Linked DNA regions of Homo sapiens. The protein of the gene in region 2 purifies or fractionates together with the protein of the main gene of each other region. This does not show direct contact. Each region holds a gene or a part of one and is shown on either strand. Other genes may lie near its edges.

Region 1 (3,828 bases), on a different chromosome or scaffold from region 2:
GAAAGAATAAGGGATGCTGGCCATACTCCAGTCACTCGCCTTGTTTCTTTCACCTAGCGGCGTTTCAGATCTAAAGTACTAAGAGATCTTAAAGGCAGGTTCAGAAACTAGAAGTCTTAGTAGAGCAACAAAGAAAGACAAAGAGGATGTAAGCAAAGACAACACTGAGACATTTGTCATCTGGGAGAAGAAAAACAATAAACAAAAAACTACGGCAAATTTTCTGAGAAACAACCAGAACAGTTTAGAGAAGTATGAAGAACAGAAATCCCATGCACCTGTGCAACTATGGAACCCAAAAGATAGCCACACTGGGCTCACCTCGGTACTGGTAAAGGTGGGTGCCTGTAATTGGGCGCCGCCACAGCTTAAAGTGTTTCTTATCCATCACCATTTCCCAACGTTGCTCTTTGCCCTCTGAATCTTCATTCCCTTCTGTTTGGGCTTTTGGTTCTGGAGGGTGGTGCTGGACTCCAGAGCTCTGAAACATATTTGACATTTCTTCCAACCGCTTCATCTCATTAATAGATCTGTAAAGGGGAAAAAGAGCCATGGTGAGGTGGTTAGTCAGCCCTGTGAAATGAAGTGTCCACACAAAGGTCTGTGCAAGAAGGTTATACAGTAAACCACAGTATGTAGTATATAAACAGGACACAGTATAGTCAATAAAAACTGAGTTCCTGAGTTTGAATCTTAGTCCAACACTCACTAACTAGATTATTATTTAACCAGTTCCTATTTCTAAATCTATAAAATGGAAATAATAATAGTACCTATCTCGAGGTTGGCTATAAAGATTACAAAGTGTCAAGTGCTGCAGGGCGTGGTGGCTCACGACTGTAATCTCAACACTGGGAGGCAGAAGAGGGTGGATCACGAGGTCAGGAGCTCAAAACCAGCCTGATCAACATGGTGAAACCCTGTCTCTACTACAAACACAAAAATTAACCGGGCATGGTGGCGCGCAACTGTAATCCCAGCTACTCAGGAGGCTGAGGCAGGAGAATGACTTGAACCTGGGAGGCAGAGGTTGCAGTAAGCCGAGATCACGCCACTGCACTCTAGCCTGGGCGACAGAGTGAGACTCTTGTCTCAAAAAAAAAAAAAAAACAAAAAACAAAAAACAACGAAAAAAAAGTAAGTGTCAAGTGCTTAATATCTATGGCCAGGCACAGAGGCTCACTCCTGTAGTCCCAGCACTTTGGGAGGCCAAGGCAGGAGGACTCCTTGAGGCCAGGTTCAAGACTAACCTGGGAAACACAGTGAGACCCTACCTCTAAGAAAAAATTTAAAAAATTAGCCAGGCATAGTGGCACATGCCTGTACTCCAAGCTATAGGCTGAGATGGGAACATCACTTGAGCCCAGGAGTTGGAGGCTGTAGTGAGCTACAATTCTGCCACTGTACTCCAGTCTGGGCAATACAGTAAGACTCTGTCTCTTTTTTTTGTTTGTTTTTTTGAAACAGAGTCTCACTCTGTCACCCAGGCTAGAATAGAGTGCCATGATCTGGGCTCACTGCAACTTCCGCCTCCTGGGTTCAAGTATTTCTCCTGCCTCAGCCTCCCCAGTAGCTGGGACTACAGGCACGCGCTATCATGCCCGGCTGATTTTTTGTATTTTTAGCAGAGACAGGGTTTCACCGTGTTACCCAGGACGGTCTCAATCTCCTGACCTCATGATCTGCCCGCCTCGGCCTCCCAAAGTTCTGGGATTACAGGCGTAAACCACCGTGCCCAGCTACACTGTCTCTTAAAAAATAAAATAGGCTAGGCGCAGTGGCTCACGCCTGTAATCCCAATACTTTGGGAGGCTGAGGCAGGCGATCACCTGAGGTCAGGAGTTTGAGACCAGCCTAACCAACGTGGAGAAACCCTGTCTCTACTAAAAATACAAAATTAGCTGGGCACGGTGGCACATACCTGTAATCCCAGCTACTCGGGAGACTGAGGCAAGAGAATCGCTTGAACACGGGAGGCGGAGGTTGCAGGGAGCCAAGATCGTGCCATTGCACTCTAGCCTGGGCAACAAGAGCGAAACTCCGTCTCAAAATAAAATAAAATAAAATAAAATAAAATAAAATAAAATAAAATAAAATAAAATAAAGCCAAGCACAACGGCTCACGCCTGTAATCCCAGACTTTGGGAGGCCGAGGTGGGCGGATCACCTGAGGTCAGGAGTTCGAGACCGGCCTGGGAAACATGGTGAAACTCCATCTCTACTAAAAATACAAAAATTAGCTGGGCATGGTGGTGGACGCCTGTAATCCCAGCTACTCGGGAGGCTGAGGCAGAAGAATCACTTGAACCCAGGAGGCTGAGGGTGCAGTGAGCCAAGATCGCACCATTGCACTCCAGCCTGGGCAACAGAGTGAGACTCCATCTCTAAAATAAATAAAAAATAAAATAAAATAAAGTGTTTGTTATCTGGCACGTAAGTAGCCCTCAAATGTTAACTATGAAGGTTTATGGTTTTAAAATGTCAATTGATATCTTTTGTCCGTTTTTTATTGGGTTGTCTTATTATAAGTATGTATGTATTTTTCCCCTTTGTTTTTAAATTGATAAATTCACATACCATAAGATTCATTCTTTTACAGTGTACAATTCTGTACTTGTTAGTATATTCACAAGGTTGTGCAACCATCACCCCTAATTCCAGAACATTTTTATCACCCCCAAAAGAAACCTCTATCTATCATTAGTCACTTCCCATTCCTGCCTCCTCCCAGTCCTAGGCAGCCACTAATCTACTTTCTGTCTCTATGGAGTTGCCAATTCTGGACATTTCAAGTAAATGGAATCATATGATATGTAGCTTTTGTGTTGAGCTTCTTTCACTTAGCATACTTTCAAGTTCAACCATGCTGTACTTTATTCCTTTTTATAGCTGAATAATATTCCATTGTATGGATAGATCGCATTTTGTTTATCCATTCATCAAATAAAATTTGTTTCCACTATTTTATTATAGTGCTATTATAATAGCACTATATTATATTACTGCTATTATAATACTGCTGGCCGGACGTAGTGACTCATGCCTATAATCCTAGCACTTCGGGAGGCCAAGGTGGGTGGATCACTCTGAGGTTGAGTTCGAGACCCAGCCTGGCCAACATGGCAAAACCCCATTTCTACTAAAAATACAAAAATTAGCCAGGTGTGATGGCAGGAGCCTGGAATCCCAACTACTTGGGAGGCTGAGACAGGAGAATTGCTTGAACCCAGGAGGTGGAGGTTGCAGTGAGCCAAGATTGCACCACTTCACTCCAGCCTGGGCGAAAAGACAAAACTGTCTCAAAAAAAAAAAAAAGAATACTGCTATGGACATTTGTGTACAAATCTTCATATAGACATGTTTTCAATTCTCTTGGGTAGATTCCTAGGAGCAGATTTGATGGATCATGGTAACTATGCTTAACTTTTTAAGCAACTGCCAAAATGTTTTCCAAACAATTACACTATTTTATATTCACATCAGCAATGTTTGAGGATTCTAACTGCTCCACATCCTTGGTTCCAATTGCCCCACTTGTTATTGTCCATCTTTGTTATTCCAGCCAACTTAGTGGGTGTGAAATGGTATCTCATTGCGTCTTGACTGGTATTTCCCTAACCTTTTCATGTGCTTATACTAGTCTTGATAGTATCCTTTCATGCATAAAAGTTTTTAATTTTGATGTTTATTTTTTCTTTGATTGCTTGTTTTTGGTGTTATAGCCAAGAAACCACTGCCTAATCCAAGGTCATAAGAACTTATGCCTATATTTTCTTCTAAGAGTTTTAGAATTTTAGCTTACATTAGGTCTTTACCCCATTTCAAGTT
Region 2 (3,828 bases):
TGAAAGAGAGAGTTAAGATCTCAGCTATTCTCAAATGAAGAAAAGGCTAAAAGCAGCAGGATACACCAGAAGTTGAACTTCTGAGATATCTGAGAAGTTTCAAAAAGAAAAAAATAGCATTAAACATTAAAACTTCTTGGAATTTAATGAAGAGCAAATCAATACTTTAAGAAACCCTTATTGCTCTAACCAATGTTTTGGTTTTGTATTGTGGTTTTTTTGGTCAAAGCTCAGTTTCCAGAAAGACGACTATAAATAATTCAATTTTAATTAAAGCCAACATAACCACAAACAAAATTTCTTTTATGAATTTGATTATACACATGCCACTTCCAACATGATTGGACTTTCCATTGTATCCTAAATTTCCCTCTTTCTTAGATTACCAGTCATCTTACTTCAGAAAAAAATATAAAATTATTTATCATACAAAATAATTCTCTTTTCTTTTTAATCTCTCTTATCACAAATACATCTTTATATCTATAACTTTCTTTACATCTCTTTCCCCTATTTACTGGTTCCTTTTTACTTTGTTTCATAAATAACCTTTGAATTAGACAAAAGTGATTTTCTTTTTAATGAGAATACATTTTTCTATTTGTCTTATATTATTTTCTTTTTTCATCAAAAACATGTCTTTGACAGACTTTATAAACAGAATTATATATTAAGTGGAATTTTTATTTTTAGTGACCTTAAACCTAGGAAACATGAAATCCTAAACTGCATATCAGGTATCAGTACTTTATAGATGAAATCACTCTATAATTTTTAGGCATGTTTCTCCATATCTCTACTTAATTGGAAATGAGCCAAACTATTAATGAGTAGCTGTTCTTTAATCCAAAATAAGTTTAAGATTTTAAATTACATAAAAGTTAACCAACAAGCATTTATCCATCCCACTTATATTTGTTCAATTTATTCATTGTTAGCAGTTTACCTAGATTGCTTTGAGAACTGAGACATTAGACAAAACTAGTCACATTTAAAGTTATTTCCTTGCTAACTATTTTATAGCCTGTGAATATCAGGTGTTCACCCAAGTATAAACCTTAATGTTAAACGTATTTTTTTACAGATAGCTCAGGATTTAGCTGTTTTTATGAAACGAATATTAAGCTAGTCTTATTTATTTAAAAAATTACAGGCTGGGTGCATTGGTTCATGCCTGTCATCCCAGCACTTTGGGAAGCCAAGGTGGGCAGATCACGAGGTCAGGGGTTCGAGACCATCCTGACCAACGTGGTGAAACCCCGTCTCTACTAAAAATACAAAAATTAGGCGGGTGTGGTCATGCACAGCTGTAATCCCAGCTACTCAGGAGGCTGAGGCAGGAGAATCACTTGAACCCTGGAGGCAGGCACTCCAGCCTGGCTGACAGAGTGAGATTCGGTCTCAAAAGAACAAAAAAAAATTTTTTAGATTTTAAAGATTGTTTTAAGTTAAAAATGTGGACAAAACTAAAGGTTTATGAAAGATTGATCATTGATCTTGTAAAAGGAATTCTATATATAAGCCAGCTGGCTAAAATTTGAAAGGGATTATTTAGTTTTTGCATAAATTAAACCTTAAAATAAAAAGCATACTAATTCAGGGCCAGAATCTAGGCCCTTATGTCAAAATATCAGGGTTTTATTAGAATACTAATCTGCTCTTTTATGGAAAATTATAAAATGTTGTAAAAGATTTATAAAAATCTCTACCTTGTGTTACAACTAATTAAATAGATTTGTTTGTAAGATTTTATTAATGCTAACTTTAGCATTAATAATAAGCTATGCAATGGTAAAATTTAGATTTCCTTTGAATAAGATTTTCTTTTAATATTAAGAGATAGTGAAAGATTTTTGCTTACCTTTTGAGAAAACTGCAAAAAAAAAAAAAAAAAGATGGGTTGGGGAAGAGAGACAAATTTAGTTGGCCTCATGCTGTCTTTATTAGGTCTTATTGTTTGTGAAAGTGAGTCCTCTCTCTCAAAGAGTGAAGGTTTTTACTTTTTGAAATCTTTGAGTTATCACTTTGCCTAAATGAATGACTTATTTACAATGACCTGTTTGGTGATTGTAATTTGTTTTTCCACCACAATATCTGTCTCTATCTAAATACCCGTAACCCAAATCTCTCCAAAGCTATTACCTTGGCTTTTAATATATGAAACTTGTTTTAAGTTTCAAAGTGGGGACTGAAGAAAATCAAACTTTCCAAAATCAAATTCTAAATTCAGTCTTGTTGACCTCATTATCTTTTTTGATATTAAGTCCCCTGAAGCCAAAAACAGACATATTCGGTGTATTTGGCATGTTAAAATCATATAGGAAACATTGTCAAATATGAAATGGTGTTCAACTTTATTTGTTCTACATTTATATTAAACCTGTTACTAGTATGTTTTTCAACATTGCGTGATATTCCTATCATTCTGATGTCTTTATATATGTTATTAGTATTTATAATTATTATGTTAAATTGTTATATGCCACAGAAATAACCAAATTTCCTTGTTAAGTGTGTCCTTGACCATGGCTGTCCTAAGACTTCTGTCATTGACAGTTGTTCTACTTTGGTGCTTTTAAAAAGGTGGTTTGCAATTAGCTATAGGACTCTAAGGGGTGCTTTTGAATGAAGCTTTATGATAACTTTGGAGATTGTGCCACTGGTATAGAGAAAAAAAACTCCCAGGACTCTCATGGAGAACTAATATGTTCATGAAGATTGCTCACCCAATATCTAACAGAATAGGAGTTAATTGCATGGACTGAAATAATAGAAGACTGAAATAATCTTTTTATGGGTTTTGTTGAAACATTGCCACTTTTGTTTTTCAGAGTCAAAATTTTTTTCTTTTTAGACATTTACAGCTTTTAATATTTGTGTAAAGTATACTCTTGTGAGCAAAATTTGAAGCATATTTCCCTCTATCTGCCTGATTTCTCTGAAATTTGGAAACTCTTAGTGATTATTGCTAATTTATGGGAATATAATTATTTGCATAAATTCAGTTAGAATCTGTTTTGTTTTGTAACAGGCCACAAGTGGAGACAAAAATCAAGGATTTGACTGGAATGCCCTATTTTTAAGAAATTGATATTGGGACTTTATAAAGCTGATAATAGCCCTGTGGATAAAACTGGCCTCACAGCTTGTCTATGCAGTTCCTTTACAGGTTCCTTTACAGGTTTCTGGCCTGTAATGGGTAAAAGAAGGTCACATTCTGACAGGCCCAGGAACCCCAACTTATTTTGGGACCTTGAGAGAGAATTCACTTAATTCATACAGGTATCTCGTAGAAACAGATAAATCCTTGGTTGGGCTCAGGATGCTTTTAAGAGGTCTAATATGAGATTCTTTACAAAAAAGAATGTTCCAGCAAAGCCATTTTTTAAAAAGGAGCCTATATAGTAAATAATTATTCTTGCTGCCCTTTATGCAAAAAATCAGACCAAGTATAGTAACAAAACTTATTTTGCAAATAAATCAGTTCTACTGTGTGTCAGGCCTCTGAGCCTAAGCTAAGCCATCATATCCCGTGACCTGCATGTACACATCCAGATGGCCGGTTCCTGCCTTACTGATGACATTCCACCACAAAAGATGGGAAAATGGCCTGTTCCTGCCTTAACTGATGACACTGTCTTGTGAAATTCCTTCTCCTGGCTCATCCTGGCTCAATAGCTCCCCTACTGAGCACCTTGTGACCCCCACTCTGCCTGCCAGAGAACAACCCCCCTTTGACTGTACTTTTCTTTTATCTATCCAAATCCTATAAAATGGCCCCACCCTTATCTCCCTTCACTGACTCTCTTTTAGGACTCAGCCCGCCTG

What was found.
Region 1: the proteins of NAT2 (region 2) and STARD7 purify together in Homo sapiens (affinity purification with mass spectrometry; 3 studies listed by BioGRID and IntAct, with this or other methods). This does not show direct contact.

The regions. Positions count from the first base shown.
Region 1 is NC_000002.12:96,195,020-96,198,847, forward strand, and holds part of STARD7 (stAR-related lipid transfer protein 7, mitochondrial isoform 1 precursor), read right to left. Parts: intron 531-3,828; coding exon 322-530; intron 1-321. UniProt on the Homo sapiens protein: May play a protective role in mucosal tissues by preventing exaggerated allergic responses.
Region 2 is NC_000008.11:18,394,018-18,397,845, reverse strand, and holds part of NAT2 (arylamine N-acetyltransferase 2), read right to left. Parts: intron 1-3,828. UniProt on the Homo sapiens protein: Catalyzes the N- or O-acetylation of various arylamine and heterocyclic amine substrates. Participates in the detoxification of a plethora of hydrazine and arylamine drugs, and is able to bioactivate several known carcinogens.